Homo sapiens: one gene and its partners. The protein of the gene in region 3 purifies or fractionates together with the protein of the main gene of each other region. This does not show direct contact. Each region holds a gene or a part of one and is shown on either strand. Other genes may lie near its edges.

The links.
Region 1: the proteins of DDX50 (region 3) and GID4 purify together in Homo sapiens (affinity purification with mass spectrometry; one large-scale study listed by BioGRID and IntAct). This does not show direct contact.
Region 2: the proteins of DDX50 (region 3) and DHX57 purify together in Homo sapiens (affinity purification with mass spectrometry; one large-scale study listed by BioGRID and IntAct). This does not show direct contact.
Region 4: the proteins of DDX50 (region 3) and ZNF638 purify together in Homo sapiens (affinity purification with mass spectrometry; one large-scale study listed by BioGRID and IntAct). This does not show direct contact.

The regions. Positions count from the first base shown.
Region 1 is NC_000017.11:18,051,931-18,056,424, forward strand, and holds part of GID4 (glucose-induced degradation protein 4 homolog), read left to right. Parts: intron 1-2,196; coding exon 2,197-2,304; intron 2,305-4,494.
Region 2 is NC_000002.12:38,862,418-38,866,911, forward strand, and holds part of DHX57 (putative ATP-dependent RNA helicase DHX57), read right to left. Parts: intron 1,103-4,494; coding exon 944-1,102; intron 1-943. UniProt on the Homo sapiens protein: Probable ATP-binding RNA helicase.
Region 3 is NC_000010.11:68,932,315-68,935,814, reverse strand, and holds part of DDX50 (ATP-dependent RNA helicase DDX50), read right to left. Parts: intron 1,617-3,500; coding exon 1,455-1,616; intron 1,017-1,454; coding exon 897-1,016; intron 1-896. UniProt on the Homo sapiens protein: ATP-dependent RNA helicase that may play a role in various aspects of RNA metabolism including pre-mRNA splicing or ribosomal RNA production.
Region 4 is NC_000002.12:71,347,805-71,352,298, reverse strand, and holds part of ZNF638 (zinc finger protein 638), read right to left. Parts: intron 3,873-4,494; exon of another isoform or gene 3,547-3,872; 5' UTR 3,345-3,546; coding exon 2,028-3,344; intron 1-2,027.

The sequences.
Region 1 (4,494 bases), on a different chromosome or scaffold from region 3:
AGGCGTGGTGGCATGCATCTGTAATCCCAGCTACTTGGGAGGCTGAGGCAGGAGAATCACCTGAACCCGGGAGGCAGAGGTTGCAGTGAGCCGAGATCGTGCCACTGCATTCCGGTCTGGGCGACAGAGCAAGACTCTGTCCCTCCCCCCAAAAAAAAAAAAAAAAGTTAGCTTATACCTTAAAAATTAGGTTTACATTTAGGAAAATTTCTCCTCTCTCATTTTTTCAGTCTATGTATTTAAATATTTATGTGAAGAATCCAGCAACAGTGTTAGGATAGGGGGGTTGTGGGTTTGGGGCAGTATTAGATTTATCATATTTTAAGTTCACTGTTAAGGAAACAGATCCCCTCCATGGTGTCATCCTAAAGCAGGCCTCCTGAGCCACCTGCAGCGGTGGTGACGTTCTGTTTCCTGGGAGCCTCTGCACCAGTGGCTTTTACTGTGGCAGCCTCTCTCAGGAAGGTCCTACACTACATGCAGGCCAGGTTGGTAGATGTGGCAAAGCCATCAGAATGAGGTTTTTGATGCAGAATAAGAGGGGCTTACATCTGATCTGAAGGAAAAACGTGGGCCTTCTGCAGTCCTTGATGTTAGGACTGTAATCTGTGGTTTTCCAGGCCAGTGACTCTCATAACCATGCTCCTGGCAGACACCAGGGGCTTGGCAAGGTAGCCTGAGAGGTGGGTGCTTGGTTGGTTTCTACAAATGCAGAGAAATGTAGACTTTTTACGGTGTTAACTTTTTGTCTTATTAATCTTTTTTAAAATCATTGGTGCCTACTTATTAACACATGAACAAAGAGCAATTAACAAAGCACCCAAGCCAGCACATGGCTTCTTGCTTACGTTTTCCACGGTGTGGTTTTTACATTCAGACATGATTTACATATGTTTTTCCTCATATAAATTGTTTTTAGTTCATATGTTTTTCCTCATATAAGTTGTTCTTAGTTCATGTGACAGAATTAAACGTATCCCTATGTATCAAGGTATTCTAAGACTACCTTCAGGGACCATTTGTATAGTTCATTACTAGAAGTTTCTCTGAACATGTAGAACACTGAAAAAAGTATTTACTTTTTTTTTTTTTTTTTTTTTTTGAGACAGAGTTTCACTCTTATTGCCCAGGCTGGAGTGCAATGGCGTGATCTCGGCTTACTGCAAACTCCGCCTCCAGGTTCAAGCAATCTCCTGCCTCAGCCTCCCGAGTAGGTGGGATTACAGGCATGCGCCACCACGCCCGGCTAATTTTGTATTTTTAGTAGAGATGAGGTTTCTCCATGTTGGTCAGGTTGGTCTTGAACTCCTGACCTCAGGTGATCCTCCCACCTCGGCCTCCCAAAGTGCTGGGATTACAGGCGTGAGCCACCATGCCTGGCCAAAATAAAAGGTATTTTAGGCTGGGTGCGGTGGCTCACACCTGTAATCCTCGCACTTTGGGAGGCCAAGGCGGGTGGATCACCTGAGGTCAGGAGTTCGAGACCAGCCTGGCCAACATGGCGAAACCCCGTCTCTACTAAAAATACAAACATTAGGTGGGCGTGGTGGCAGCCAACTGTAATCCCAACTACTCGGGAGGCTGAGGTAGGAGAATCACATAAACCCAGGGTGTGGGAGGAGGTTGCAGTGAACCGAAATTGTGCCATTGCACTCCAGCCTGGGCGACAGAGCAAGACTCTGTCTCAGGAAAAATAAAAAAGTATTCTACCCCAGAATCCACCCTGGAACCTTGGAGAATTGGTGTAAAAGGGACAAATGACTGAGCCAGTTGGAGAACCAGTGGCTTGAGGGAGCCTTAGTGGTAGACACAGTGATTTTGGAGCCTCTTTGGGTCTAACCTTGGAAAGTAAAATCTACCAAGTTATGATCTGCTTTGTATGCTAGAATATTAAAAATTTATTTGTGGAAACATCCAAATTATTTTCTAAGAGACTAGCATGTAACAATTGAAGTCAAAGAAGGGCTGTCTGCTGCTGGCAAAATCCAGGAAACCCTTCATTCTCTGGGTGATTTAGATTCAGGTCCATTGCCACAGCCTGTTGGCAAACTGGCTGCGATCTAACTCTGGTTTGGATTGTCAGGTAGCAGTGTCTAGGTACTGGAAAGAAGTTAAAGCAAAGTTTATTTTTCCTTTGTACAAAGGTTAAAAACTCTCACTCAACATCTTATTTTGATATTTGGGTTTTTACCATAGGAGTATCCAACCCTTACAACCTTCTTCGAAGGAGAAATAATCAGCAAAAAACACCCTTTCTTAACTCGCAAGTGGGATGCAGATGAAGATGTTGATCGGAAACACTGGGTGAGTAAATCTGATCTGTGCTGGGTCATCTAGGGGCTGCTAGAGAATTGAAGAAATGCTGGGAGCCAGAGACCTTGTCCCTTATTGAGGATTACTGGGGCTTTGCAACCAAGTAAAAGGTTGCACTGCACACAGACCTCAGTTGTTCCATCTTCCTTATGAGGACAGTTTAAATACGATCTGACCTGCTGCTTAAATAGCAAATGGTTGTCTGATGATAGCAACCCCAGAGTTCCAGCCAGAACTCTGCTCAGCTATCAGAATCTTAACAGTGTCCCCCCATCCTTCCCACCTGTTTGTCCATCTTCTGTCCACTGTTCCTTTCAAATCACCTCTGCTTGGGGAAAACCCTGTGAAACATGCAATGATGACCTCCGGCTTCGGGGCTGGCATGAGATGGAGATGATGTTGTGGGAATCTGCCTGCCCACTGGCTTATCAGGGCAGAGCCACATCATTTCTTTTTATCCTGGCTGCTGACAGACAAGTATAGTCTTGTCTTAAGTACACCACTATAAATCCTGCTGCCCCCCTTTTTAACTGTCAAGTGTAGAGCATTCTCACTCAGCAGTAGTGAATGCTTCAAGACAGTTAGTGTCCTGGGATCTTTTCATTTGTTGTCATATAAGTACCATGTCTTCAAAAATCAGTGTCTCGGCTGGGCGCGTTGGCTTGCGCCTGTAATCCCAGCACTTTGGGAGGCCGAGGCGGGCGGATCACCAGGTCAGGAGATTGAGACCATCCTGGCTAACACGGTGAAACCTCGTCTCTACCAAAAATACAAAAAATTAGCTGGGCGTGGTGGTGGGCACCCGTAGTCCCAGCTACTCTGGAGGCTGAGGCAGGAGAATGGCGTGAACCCAGGAGGCGGAGCTTGCAGTGAGCCGAGATTGTGCCACTGCGCTCCAGCCTGAGCAACAGAGTGAGACTCCGTCTCAAAAAAAAAAAAAAAAAAATCATTTTCTCAACCTAATAGCCTTTTGCTTTAGTTGACCATGGTGATGGTGAATTTTTGTTTAACATTGAAGAAGTTCAATGGGTTTACCCTCCATAAACCAACCAGAAATGGCTGTGTCAGTAGCAAAGATTCTAGAACTCGTTCTTCCCATTGCCTCTCACACCTGGCTATCTAAACTCTCCCCTGGTTCTGGCACAGCAGTCTGTGGAGAGAACTCCCGCAGACCCTTGTCTTGAGTTCACCTCACTAGAGATCAGTTGCTTTGCTTACTAATGTTTTTTATTTGTTTATTTTATTTAAAAAAAATTTTTTTTAGAGTTGGGGTCTTGCTCTGTCGTCTATGCTGGAGTGCAGTGGCATGATTATAGCTCACTATAGCCTCAACCTCCTGGGCTCAAGTAATCCTCCCACCTCCGCGCCCCAAGTAGCTAGAACTACAGGCACGTGCCACCACACTGAGCTCATTTTCTTTTATTTTTGTAGAGACAGAGTCTCCCTATGTTACCCAGGCTGGTCTTGAACTCATGATCTTAAGTGATCCTCTTGCCTTGTCCTCCCAAAGTGCTGGGATTATAGGTGTGAGCCACTGACCCAACCTGTTTTTTTGGTTTTTCTTTTATGGGGGTTTTTGTTTTGTTTTGTTCTGTTTTGTTTGGTTTGGTTTTGAGACAGAGTCTCAGTCTGTCACCCAGGCTGGAGTGCAGTGGCGTAATCTCGGCTCACTGCAACCTCTGCTCACTGCAACCTCCGCCTCCCAGATTCAAGTGATTCTCATCTCTCAGCCTCTCAAGTAGCTGGGATTACAGACGTGCACCACCGTGCCTGGCTAATTTTTGTATTTTTAGTAGAGACAAGGTTTCGCCATGTTGGCCAGGCTGGTCTTGAACTCCAGGCCTCAAGTAATCCTCCTGCCTTGGCCTCCCAAAGTGCTGGGATTACAGGCGTGAGCCACCATGCCCAGCCCCAAGCTGTTTTTTACTTGAGTAAAAAAAGGAGATCTATCAAATACTGAGGTTCAGTTAAATTTAAATTTAAACTTGAGCTTTTTAAAGCGTTTTTTGAATTCTATACATTTTGATTGTTGTAGCAAATGGACACTAAAAACTAGACAGTCATTTGTGTCTCTCTGTGATACAAGAGAATGCACAAGACCTGAGTATCCAGAAGGTTGGGGGAGCCCAAGTGGTGTATGAAGGTGCTGGCCACCAGCAGGTGGAGTTGGAAGGGCTCCCT
Region 2 (4,494 bases), on a different chromosome or scaffold from region 3:
TCATAGGATCCTGACTACTCTTCAGTTGCTGATTTAATCTTATATTGAACTATTAATTTATATCTTGGCAATTAACATTTACCAGGCATTTATTAAATACCAGTTACTGTGTTAAGTGCTTTATATGAACTAACTCCTTTAATCTTCCCAATAACTGTACCAAATACTACTGGAATGTCCTTTTTTTTTTTTTTTTCTAGATGATCAACTAAAACTCAGAGAGGATTAGTAACTGCCTAGGTTACACATTAAGGAGCAAATAGAGATTTTGCCAAAGGCAGACAGATTCCTGTGTTCTTAACCACAGAAACCTTGGCTATTCTCTCTCTTCTCATTCATAAAAACACTATCCCTAATTGTTTGTTTTGCTACATAATCTCCCTTTCTAAATCTAAAACAGATAAGAGATTTGTAGATAGGATGGAAAATGAGCTGTTCATGACTGGCCACTAATTAATTTTGGTAAATGGAAAGAAGGAATTAACTTCTCCAACTGAAATCCAAAGCAAAAGAGCCGAAATGCAGTAGAGTGGGAAACGAATAAGATTTAAGAGTAAAAGCTTTCTCTTAGGCAGACAGTCATGACAAGCAAATCCTAAGACTGCACCTGACCGAGTCAATATTTGCTCATTCAACACTACTTCTACTTGTTCATTACAAGGGTTTATCTGGAAGGTTACAGATAAATCAGTTACTGAATCCATATGAGCACTGCCCTGGAAAAAAATAAAGATAAAAAGGCAATCCCATGGATGTTGCAAAACAAACTCACTCTAAAATTGTGGCTGAATAATTATTCTTGTATTACTCTTGGCTCACTTTCAACTAATTAAATGGCCACAATAGAATCAGTACTGACACAGCATTCCAAAGATGCACAGGACCTTCACACTGCCAGTATGTTTTCCTTAATATAATAATTGACTCAAATAAAACAATTTACTCAGATCCAGCATCAGCATCTTGTTCTTGCAGGTCTCGGAGAAGAGCTTTCACTTTCTCTTGATTCTCAGAAGTCATATGTAGAGTCTGAAGGGGTACTTTGGCTTTGGGTTTCCATTTTGGGCGTGACTCTCCTTTGCTTATGTTACTGTTGCTAGGTCTATAGAGAACAAAAGAGCAAAATTACACACATATCTTCAATCAGAACTTTTACACTCTCCTCAGGGGTCCCCAGATATACACAATACAAACTGGATTGTCAAGTATCTTACAAAAGATGACAATGAATGTGAGGAGATTCTCCATTTTCTATAGTATTTACCAGACTTCATTATATCAGACCTGCTGGAAAAAAACCTTATCAGATTCTTGGCCAGGCGCAGTGGCTCACGCCTGTAATCCTGGCACTTTGGGAGGCCGAGGCTGGCGGATCACCTGAGGTCAGGAGTTTCAGACCAGCCTGGCCAACATGGTGAAATGCTGTCTCTACTAAAAATACAAAAATTATCTGGGCGTGGCAGTGCGCTCCTGTAATCCTAGCTACTCAGGAGGCTGAGGCAGGAGAATCACTTGAACTTGGAGGTAGAGGTTGCAGTAAGCCAAGATTGTGCCACTGCACTACAGCCTGGGCAACAGAGCGAGATTCCGTTTAAAAAAAAAAAAAACAACAAAACTTAACAGATTCTTAATCATTAATTCTGGCTTCACTAACTCAAGAATCCTTAGGAAAAAGCAATGCTAATGATGGTTTCCTCTGCACTATAGGACATGAAGAGCATTTCATTTCATTCTGCATTAAAATCTGAAAACCACTGAGTTTCATTCTTCCTTGTGAATATTAAGGCCCCATTTCTAAAATACCCAATTATCTTTATTTCTGATTATTAAAAAAAAAAAAAAAAAGGCCAGGGGCATTGGCTCACACCTGTAATTCCAGCACTTTAAGAGGCTGAAGTGGTAGGATTGCTTAAGCCCCAGGAGTTCGAGACCAGCCTGGGCAATATAGCAAGATCCTGTCTCTATTTAAAAAAAAAGAAATAAAAAAATTACACAGCATATATAATCTCTTATGATTTGTCTGATCATTAGGAAATGATCAGTTAAACATGAGGGGGAGTTGGGAGTTTCACATGCTCCTATCTTAAAGTCATCCTTTATCTTAAAGTCAGCCTTTCTATTTGTAAACTATATGCCAATCTCTTTAATCTCCTCAAGGAAATCATTCCAGCACTTATCCCCCTTTCTAAATCACTGGTTTTTCATTCTTCTTTGGATCATTCCCATCAGCATACAGACATACTATAAGGTCTACCCTCTTAAAAAAATGAAACCAAGCCAAATCCTCCCTTGAGTGCACATCTCCCTGTAGCTACTGACCCATCTCTCCTCCCTCTAGCTCCCTTATAGTAAAACTTCTCATTTAGGTTATCAAAATCATTGTCTCTGTCTCCATTTTCTTTCCTCTTCTCTCTGAAACACAACCCAATCAGTATTTCCTATGCTACTACAGCTCTTGTCAAGGTTAACCATGATACCCACATTGTCAAATGCAGTGGACAATTCTTAGTGCACATTTTCCTTGACCTACCAGAAGCATTTTTCCACAAATGTGTACCCTCTTTAAGCATACAATTCGATCTTATTGGCTACTCTCCTTTAAAACACCTTTGTCCCTTGGCTTCCAAAAACCACTCTCTTAGTTTCCTACTTCATTGGCAGCTCCTTCTCAATCCCCTTTGTTTTTCATACTTTCTCTTAGCTTTATTTATTTTTTAACTAAAAATTTTTATTGACACATAATAATTGTACATTCTTTATACGGTTGATAATGGTTTGGCTGCAAGTCAAATCTCATCTTCAATTGAAGTTCCCATAATCCCCACATGTTATGGGAGGGAACCGGTTGGAGGTAGTTGAATCATGGGGGCAGTCTCCCCCATGCTATTCTCGTGATAGTGAGTAACTTCTCACGAGATCTGATGGTTTTATAAGGGGTGTCCCCCTTTACTTGGCTCTCATTCTTCTTTCTCCTGCCACCTTGTGAAGAAGGATGCTTTTGCTTCCCCTTTCAGCATGATTGTAAGTTTCCTGAGGCCACCCCAGCCCTGTGGTACTGTGAGTCAATTAAACCTCTTTCCTTTATAAATTACTCAGTCTTGGGTATGTCCTTATAGCAGCGTGAGAATGGACTAATACAGGGGTACATGTGCTATTTTGATACATGCATACAATGTGTAGTGATCAAATCAGGGTAATTAGGATATCTAACACCTCACACATTTATCATTTCTTTGTGTTGGGAACATTCCAAATTCTCTTAGCTTTAAAACCTAGAGTGTCCCAGGGCTCAAACATCAGATACCTTCTCTATTCGATTTTATCCAGACTCAGAACTTTAGCATTTATCTATAGAAGACTCACACATTTACATCTCCAGCCTAGATCTTTTTCTTGAACCTCAGATTTATATATTAAATTATCTATTTTATATCTACACTTGGAGAACATCTCCTAACTGGTCTCCTTGCTTTCAACTCATGCCCCTTTATAGTTTATTCTCTACAAAGCACACCCAGTCAATGCTATTGAGTATAGATTCATAGACTGTACACTGCACAAAGGTTCCTGGCTGGGAGGGAAGAAGAGGGAGGAAGGGACAGCAAAATCCGGTCCATGTTCTGCTGGCTAAGCCATGATCCTGGTGTGGGGCTATAACTGTCCAAAGGAAGGAGCACCATTTTCTAATTCACATAAAGGCATACACTGAATAGAAACAACTCTGGCCAGACTGACTGATAATATCACACACCCTTGCCTCAAACCCTCCAAAGGCCTTCTGTCTTACTTCATGTAAAAGCCAAAGTCCTAATAATGGCCCATGAAGTCCTATACAGTCTGGTCTTTCTGATCTAATTGCCTACCACTTGCCTTCTTGCCCACTCATTCTAGCCACATGGTTCTTTGCTATTTCCTAAACCTTCCAAGCACATTCTTGCCTTAAGAAATTGCTCTTCCCTCTGCCTTGAATGCTGTACTCAGAACTTCACAGCTTATTCCTTTACTTACTTCTTGCCTCTCTTCACGTGATACCTTATTAGGGGGGCTTTCTACATAAATTAACAATTCTATTTTGGTATTTTATATCCCTGTTACACTCCTTTATTTCTCTCCATAGCATGCGGCACCTGGTAATGTTATACATTTGTTTATGGTTTTTCTATCTCAAATCCCATTCTATCTAGATAAGGACAATATTTTACTCCCTGCTGCAATTCCAAGTCCCTAAAACAGTGCCTGGTGCATGGTAGGCATTCAGTAAATACTTACCAAATGAATGAACATCTACGGACTCCAAGAACCTATAATGTCCATGTTTTGAAAAACTATGGAGCTGCAGCTAACTCAGAAGTTAGGTTCTTGGCTAGGCACAGTGGCTCACGCCTGTAATTCCAACACTATGGGAGGCCAAGGCAGGAGAATCGCTTGAGCCCAGGAGTTCAAGACCAGCCTGGGCAACATAGAGAGACTATGCTGCTTGCTATTTATAAAGTC
Region 3 (3,500 bases):
TGCCCAGGCTGGAGTGCAGTGGCGTGATCTTGGCTCACTGCAACCTCCACCTCCTGGGCTCAAGCAATTCTCCTGCCTCAGCCTCCATAGTAGCTGGGATTACAGGTGTCTACCACCATGCCCAGCTAATTTTGGTATTTTTAGTAGAGATGGGGTTTCACCATGTTGGGCAGGCTGGTCTCAAACTCCTGACCTCAAGTGATCTGCCCATCTCCGCCTCCCAAAGTGCTGGGATTACAGGCGTGAGTGACTGCACCCAGCCAAGATCTTTTTTTTCTCATAAATCATCAATTACAAATTTCAGAAAGAGAAAAATAATTTTTTGAATTGCCCCTTAGTTACAATCATGGAATTTCACTTGTAAAACAAGCCTGATTTGAAAAAAAAACAAAACAAAACAGATGTTTAAATCTATCAGCTTTTTTCCTTATTACACTATCTCATTTTACAAAGTATATGAAATTGCATATAAAAACACATATAAAAATAGGAAAAAATGTGAAATACCACAAAAAATCCAGACCACAGAAAATGTACAGTTTCTTTAGAAACTGTCTATTGTACCATACTTAAAAGAATCTTAACTATTATACCAAGACAATCTTTTAGTCACCCATTTACACTAAGAAGTACTGAAATCACAATGCACTTCTGATTTTAGTATGAAGAGAGAAATTCAAGGAAAAGATGAGAAAGTCAGCTCCACTGTCTTCACAATAAAAGCTGTATTAAAGTCTTGAAGCTAATATAAATTTAGATCTCCACAGGCTTCACAGCCAAATGCAGCTTAAACTGAGAAAAGTTATGAAGACCTACTTGTAAGAATAAATATAAGAAGAGCTCTCTTTTAAGGCACCATTTAGACAATAAGCCTGAAATAATTTAACTCTACTTACTGCTTTTTGTTCCACATATCTTAGTTGACCTCTTTCTCTTGGTTGATAAAAACATATACAAATCCCTGTCCGTCCAGCTCTACCTGTGCGTCCAGAGCGATGGATATAGGACTCAACATCCTAAAGATTATAAAAGGTAATATTTTTTAAAAATCTAGCAAGTTGCAGTCATTCCGGAATCCAAATAATAATGTTAATAATAATATATTTATTTCAATCCTGTTGCCCTTTTCAACATTCCAAACAATTTATATGTGTGGATTTTGGGGTAAAGGCAATATGATTTAAAACCTTTTAATCCACCTCATCCCAGGTTTCTTTATGGCAACTTTTTGTAATTCTCTGCCTGATTTTGTTGCTCCATGCTTCAAATACAAACAATAGAGTTAATCATCTGCAAAAGTATCAGAATCTGATAAATTTAATAGCACACTAACAAAAAATGGCTAAGAGCAAGAAGAGATGACATATTTTTCACATCCCAAGCAATATGTTGTAAATTAAATGGGAATTTATAAAATTGCTCTTATTTTTCCCAAATCAAATCCCATTTCCTACCTGAGGAGGAGAACTTTGAATCACCAGGTCAACTTCAGGAATGTCCAAACCACGGGCAGCCACATTGGTTGCCACCAAAACTTTAAAACTACCTTCTCTGAAGCCTTTTAGTGTAATTTCTCTTTGTGACTGTGCAATGTCCCCATGTAAACACTGGGCATTCTATTTGAGAAAGGGGGAGAAAATTAAGTGTACAGCTCATACTTGCAACTGATAGCACAACAACATCTAGTCTGTGCTCCTTTTGCATGTTTTTAAATCTTACTTTGATGATTTTAACAATGCATGCTTACTGTAAAAAAAAAAAGTCAAACATGACAGAAAATATTTAACATAAAATGTAAAAGCTTCCCTAATACTAGTGACTTAGAAATAATTCACTGCTAAGAGTTTGGTAAATATTCTGTCAGATTTTTTTTTTTTTTTAGACAGAGTTTTGCTCTTATTGCCCAGGCTGGAGTGCAATGGAGCGATCTTGGCTCACTGCAACCTCTACCTCCCAGGTTCAAGCGATTCTCCTACCTCAGCCTCCCGAGTAGCTGGGATTACAGGTGCCTGCCACTATGCCCAGCTAATTTTTGTATTTTTAGTAGAAACAGGGTTTCACCATGTTGATCAGGCTGGTCTTGAACTCGCTGACCTCAGGTGATCCGCCAGCCTCTGCCTCCCAAAGTGCTGGGATTACAGGCGTGAGCCACCACACCCGGCCACTTTTTTTTTTTAATACACACATACTCACATTACACTAGCATATACTATGACTTTATGTATTTATTTATAACGTGGATATTACATAGGTAGGGTTTTGTAACCTACTTGATAAATTTAGTGTATCTTAGCTATCCACATCTATAGATAAAATGCTACTTAATTTTTTTAAACTGTATATAATTTATTCATATGGATGCACCAGCATCTATTTTAGCAATATCCTACTGATGAACTTTTGGGCTGTATTCACATTTTCACCTTTAGAAACAATGCTGCAATGGGCCGGGCATGGTGGCTCACACCTGTAATCCCAGCACTCTGGGAGGCCGAGACAGGCAGATCACCCGAGGTCAGGAGTTTGAGACCAGCCTGGCCAACATGGTGAAACTCTGTCTCTACTAAAAATACAAAAAATTAGCTAGGCGCAGTGACAGGCACCTGTAATTCCAGCTACTTGGGAGGCTGAGACAGGAGAATAGCTTGAACCCGGGAGGTGGAGGTTGCAGTGAGCTGAGATCGTGCCATTGCACTCCAGCCTGGGGGACAAGAGTGAAGCTTCATCTCAAAAAAAAAAAAAACAAACAAACAAACAATGTTGCAATGAACAACTTTGTAACTTTGTACTTGTATCTCTGGATGCCTCAGTATCTGTATATTTCAGTAGGATACATATCTAGAAGTTGAATTTCTGGGTCAAAAATTATGAACATGTAGCATTTTAACAGAAACTGTATTATTTAAAAAACTGTATTATAAAAAAAGTTGTGTACCTTTTATTCTTCAATACTCTATGAGTATTTATTTCAACATACCCTACCCAGCTTGTGTATATTATAAATCATTGTAATCTTTGTGAATTTAATAGGCAAAAATAATTTCCCAATGTTGTTTTAATTTACATGTCTGTAATTTTTAGTGACACTGAACCTATTTATATTAGGTAGATCTTCATCTCTGCTGCATTAGTGACACTGAACCTATTTATATTAGGTAGATCTTCATCTCTGCTGCAAATTTCCTGGTATTATAAATACACTTCCTAGTATTCCTGGCCACTATATTAAAGTCAAAAAGTTCATAACAATGATCAGGCCAGGCTCAGTGGCTCATGCCTGTAATCCCAGCACTTTGGGAGGCTGACGTGGGTGGATCACTTGAAGTCAGGAGTTCAAGACCAGCCTGGCCAACATGGTGAAACCTCATCTCTACTAAAAATACAAAGATTAGCCAGGTATGGTGGTGCATGCCTGTAATCCCAGCTACTCGAGAGGTTAAGGCAGGAGAATCATTTGAACCCAGGAGGTAAAAGTTGCAGTGAGCCGTAATCGCTCCACT
Region 4 (4,494 bases), on a different chromosome or scaffold from region 3:
ACCATGTCAGTAAGGGTGGTCTTGAACTCCTGACCTCAGGTGATCCACCTGTCTCGGCCTCCCAAAGTGCTGGGATTACAGGCAGTGAGCCACTGTGCCCGGCCCCCTCCTCCTCTTTATACAGGCATATCTAAAGCCTCAATTCAAGACCCATCTTCAACCTACTCCATGAAGTCTTCTCTCCCACATCATTCTAGTCAAGACAGACTTAGTGCATTTAGTAACTGACATTCCATTAGTCTAACTAGGCTATAAAAGTCTTTTGATGTCAGGATGCATATTTATACTTATTTTTAAACACATACTGTTACAAATACAATAGTTAAAATAATTAAATTGGCAAATTGGTAATGATTAAATTGGTAAATTGATGATGCTGGCCTGAGTGATACATGCCTGAAATCAAGACAGAAATCTCTGTCCCCTACAGCATATCCAAACAAGTTAAATCAATCACAAAACCACTTGTTGTCTTCTAATTGTTTTAAATGTCTTGGGAGCATAATTTTTCTCCCCAATAAGACTGAATAAACTGCTTAATAACATCTAAAATTTTACACAGTTCCTCATTTCTGCCCCAGTACCTAATTGGAGTCAAGTACAAAACTGGTATCCATAAGTACATACTAAATTAAATGTACACCTTTTCTACTCTACAGAATACAAAACTTCAAGTTCTTTATTTAAAGATGTATTTTCTTGGATTCATTATGATTAATTAAAAGTTCAAAATCAATTAAAAAAAATTATGTGGTATGCCCAGTCACAAGAATACAGACAAACACTCAATTCACTACTTAGGCCAGGGCTACTTACAGATTACAATTAGGTGATATGAATTATTCTAAGACTTTCCCTTGTAAGGACTTTGCTATCCCTTCTGATGGAATAAGGCAACTATTATTTTAATAGAATTTGGCACATCTGGCTAAAATGGGGTAGAATGCTGCTTTCTTTTGCTGGAGTTAACCTTAAGAAAATACCAACAGATCTAATTATCAGATTCATGTTGACGAAAACCTAGTGAGTAAATAATGAAAAGAAAATCGAAAGGCAGCACTGGAAGAAAAGAACAAGAGCGTTAACACACAGATTTTTAAGCCTAAGTATACAACCAATTCCAGGCCATGGCCTTGAATCAAAGCTTTTTCCCATGTTAGTATATTCTCTTCTGACCCTTTACAATCTAAATCTATAAATCACATTAGTAAATAGAAGAAACAGTGATTGCCAACCATACGTAAGTAAATAAAATTTACTTGGAAATTCCTGCTCAAATCTACCAATGATTACGACTGAACAGTATGTTCTACATTATAGTACACTTCACTGCCTCTGCAAAATACTTCCTTCTAACTATACTATCAAACTACCTAAATCATCTTTATTTTTTAAAGATTTTTCTCTACAAATTTCTATCATTTTACACTATTTTCTGAGTCCACAGCTGGTCCCAGAATAATTACTGCACCTTGACTTATTTTTGCTATGAAGTTATTTTAGAAAGCTTCTTCTCAAAAAATACTAAAAATCACTAGTCTACATAAAGTCAGGAAATATTTAAATCAACATTAATTGTCTTTATCCCAAGACAGGTGTATATGTGCAAGGCTATAATATACTGTCTCTTAAATGTGTGCATTACAAATGGGTTATACCATCTCTTTGTATTTTTATACTAACAGATCCTTTTAGAGAAAGGTGATTCCATGTGACATTGTCTTGTAAGTACGCAGCTTATGTTACATAAATTTTATGTTGCGTAAGTGGGATAACTAAAAGTTCAAAATAAATGGACACACTACTAAAATATGGTGTGCCCGGTCATAGGAATACAGTAAGCCTAAAATTCAATTCAGTACTAAGGCCAGGGCTACTTAAGATTACAACTATGTATTGAGGTTGCAATTAAAATTACCTTCTGCCATTTCCTTAACGCCTAGTTAACAAGCAGCATACATATCAGAATTTAGAGAAAACTGGCGCTGAGCATCATTATACAGTGATCTTTTTTTAAAAACACTCACCTTCAAATGACTACATTCTACGTTACACAGAGAACACAAATGTGGAAATATTCTTGGAGATGCTGCATAATAATCATTCATCATAGAAGGAGTTGGAAGTCTCTTCATCTTCTGGGCATCAGCATGTGAAAACTTTGGTAGCCAGGATGCTTTCACAATACCAAAGGGAGACCGAATGGGAATGTCAGCCTGTGACTGGTAATTCTTTTTACTTCCTCTTGATCCAACATGTACGTTAGATGAATTAATCACAGGTTCATGTGGGATCCGCTCTTGCTGGCTTACAGATGAAATTAATTCCGACGAAAAAGGTTGCTGGTTCATAGATGGAGGAATCAGAGATTGACTCATTGTCTGGCTAACTGTTTGGTTAATGGATTGGTTGACGGATTTTATGGGTTCAAGGACTGACTGTCCTCCTGAAATGTGTAAGCCTGACATCTTGGTTCCACTCTCAACTGAGAAAAAGGACCGATTATTGGAGGACTCACCGGGGAAGTCCATTTGGCGAAATACGTCTTCAACAGGAAACATAGAATTACATATCACATTTGGATTGGGAACAGATGCAGAAATGTTCTGCTGTGACTGAAATTCATTCTCGACCTCATCAGTTGGAATTTCAGGATCATAAATACGTACTTCAAGTGGATCTTCTGTGTAGCCATATTTGCTTGCATGCCCATAATCGATCACATTACTTGAAACTGCTTCACTACCAAGTGTTTCTTTATTTCTGCTCTGAGAAGGTAAATTAGGTAATCGGCGCCCCATTTTTCGCATTCTTATATCCCTCAAAATTAATGGCATATTTTCAGGAGTTAGTTGTTCATCAGGATAGCGACTAAGTTCTTCTAGGTCTTCATTAGATAATCCAAAACTTGCTAAGATACTTGAGGCACTCTCTTTTGTATAGCGGCTCTGTACTTTGGGACTCTGCTCTGTAACCTGTGTTACAGAACTCTGTTTCACTGCCACTGATGCAGATATATGAGGCTCATCATCCCACCGGCTACCATGAGGCTTCCCCTTCTTCTGTTGTGCTTCATGAAAATCCAGTTTTTCTTTGGTCAATCTTGGATCAGTTCTGTGTTGAGTTACCTGAACATTCATTCTCTGTGGCCCCATGTTCTGATAAGATTCATGGCCAGCAAATCTGTGTGGAATTCCACGTGCTCTCCCTGCTGGGTAAAATCTTGGGAGACCCATAGATCCAGGCCTCATAAATGGTCCTGGAGGCCTCATCCCAGAAGGGTTAGGTGCTCGTGGCCTTTGAAGTGGAAAGTCTCCTCGAGGATTAAACCTGGGTCTCGACATGGCTATTTTCAAGAAAGCCTGATTTAATAAAGTATAAGGTGGTGTTGAACCATGTGAGGCAACGGCATTCAGCTGCTGAAGCGCCAACTGAGTCTTAATCTGAGCAAAGTGCAAAGGAGATGGGCCCAACAGAAGTGGGTTTGCAATGCCCAGGTTCAAGGAATTCACAAGTGGTGCGAAATTTTCCAAGAATAACACAAAGCTGAAAGTTAAAACACAAATATTAGATCATTTTAACTCAAACTACTTCATGAAGTGGGTTCTACAGCCAGTGTAAAACATTTTGAAATAAAGCCATGAAACCATTCTGCATTTCATATACTTTTAGAGTAAGGGCTTACGAAGATTTAAATTTCCCAAAAACTTTCTCTTCTTTTCTTTCCTGAATGCAGAACACAAGCCCCAAACCTCAAGCCAGAGTTCATGTACATTGTGTTGCACTGGGTGCTGTCCTAGGTGCTGAGCAGTAATTACAACTCCTTTTACATAATCTTGAAAAATACTGGGAATTTATTTCACGCTGTAATACTGGGGAAAAAAAAGATGAAGGCATTAAAATACTTATAAATGCACACATTTAATACGCATGTTATCAGATATACAAATAATGAAAGTAAGAACTGTAAGCCTAAAAGACCCATTTTTGTAAAACACAATCTTCCTTGGAATCAGCCTTGACATCTAATAAATCCCATAGGGCAATTAAACTACACTTATGTTCCTATTATTAAATAGTTGTTTCTTGTAAGATAAAAATTTGTTGCCAATAACCTGACTACAGAGTCTAAGAAAACAGTATGCAATGGCATGGAATTCGTTATAACATAGAACATAATACATAACAAAACCAGTAACCCTTCCCTTGGATTCCATCCATAGACGCAGTATGGACGAATATATATGGATGACAATAATGATTAACTATATAGAGCACTGTCCACGTGTCAGTCAGCGTTCTATGAACTTTAAATGGAATGGGTCATTTGATGCTCACAACAGTCCTGAGATATGTACAGTTTTACAGAGGAAGACACTAAGGCACACACAGGTAAAGTAACTTACAAAGAAAAGTGACTGTGCTGAGATTTGTATTCAAGGTTATCTGGTCCAGTAATCTGTGCTCTTAACCATTAACAGATGTGAGTAAAAG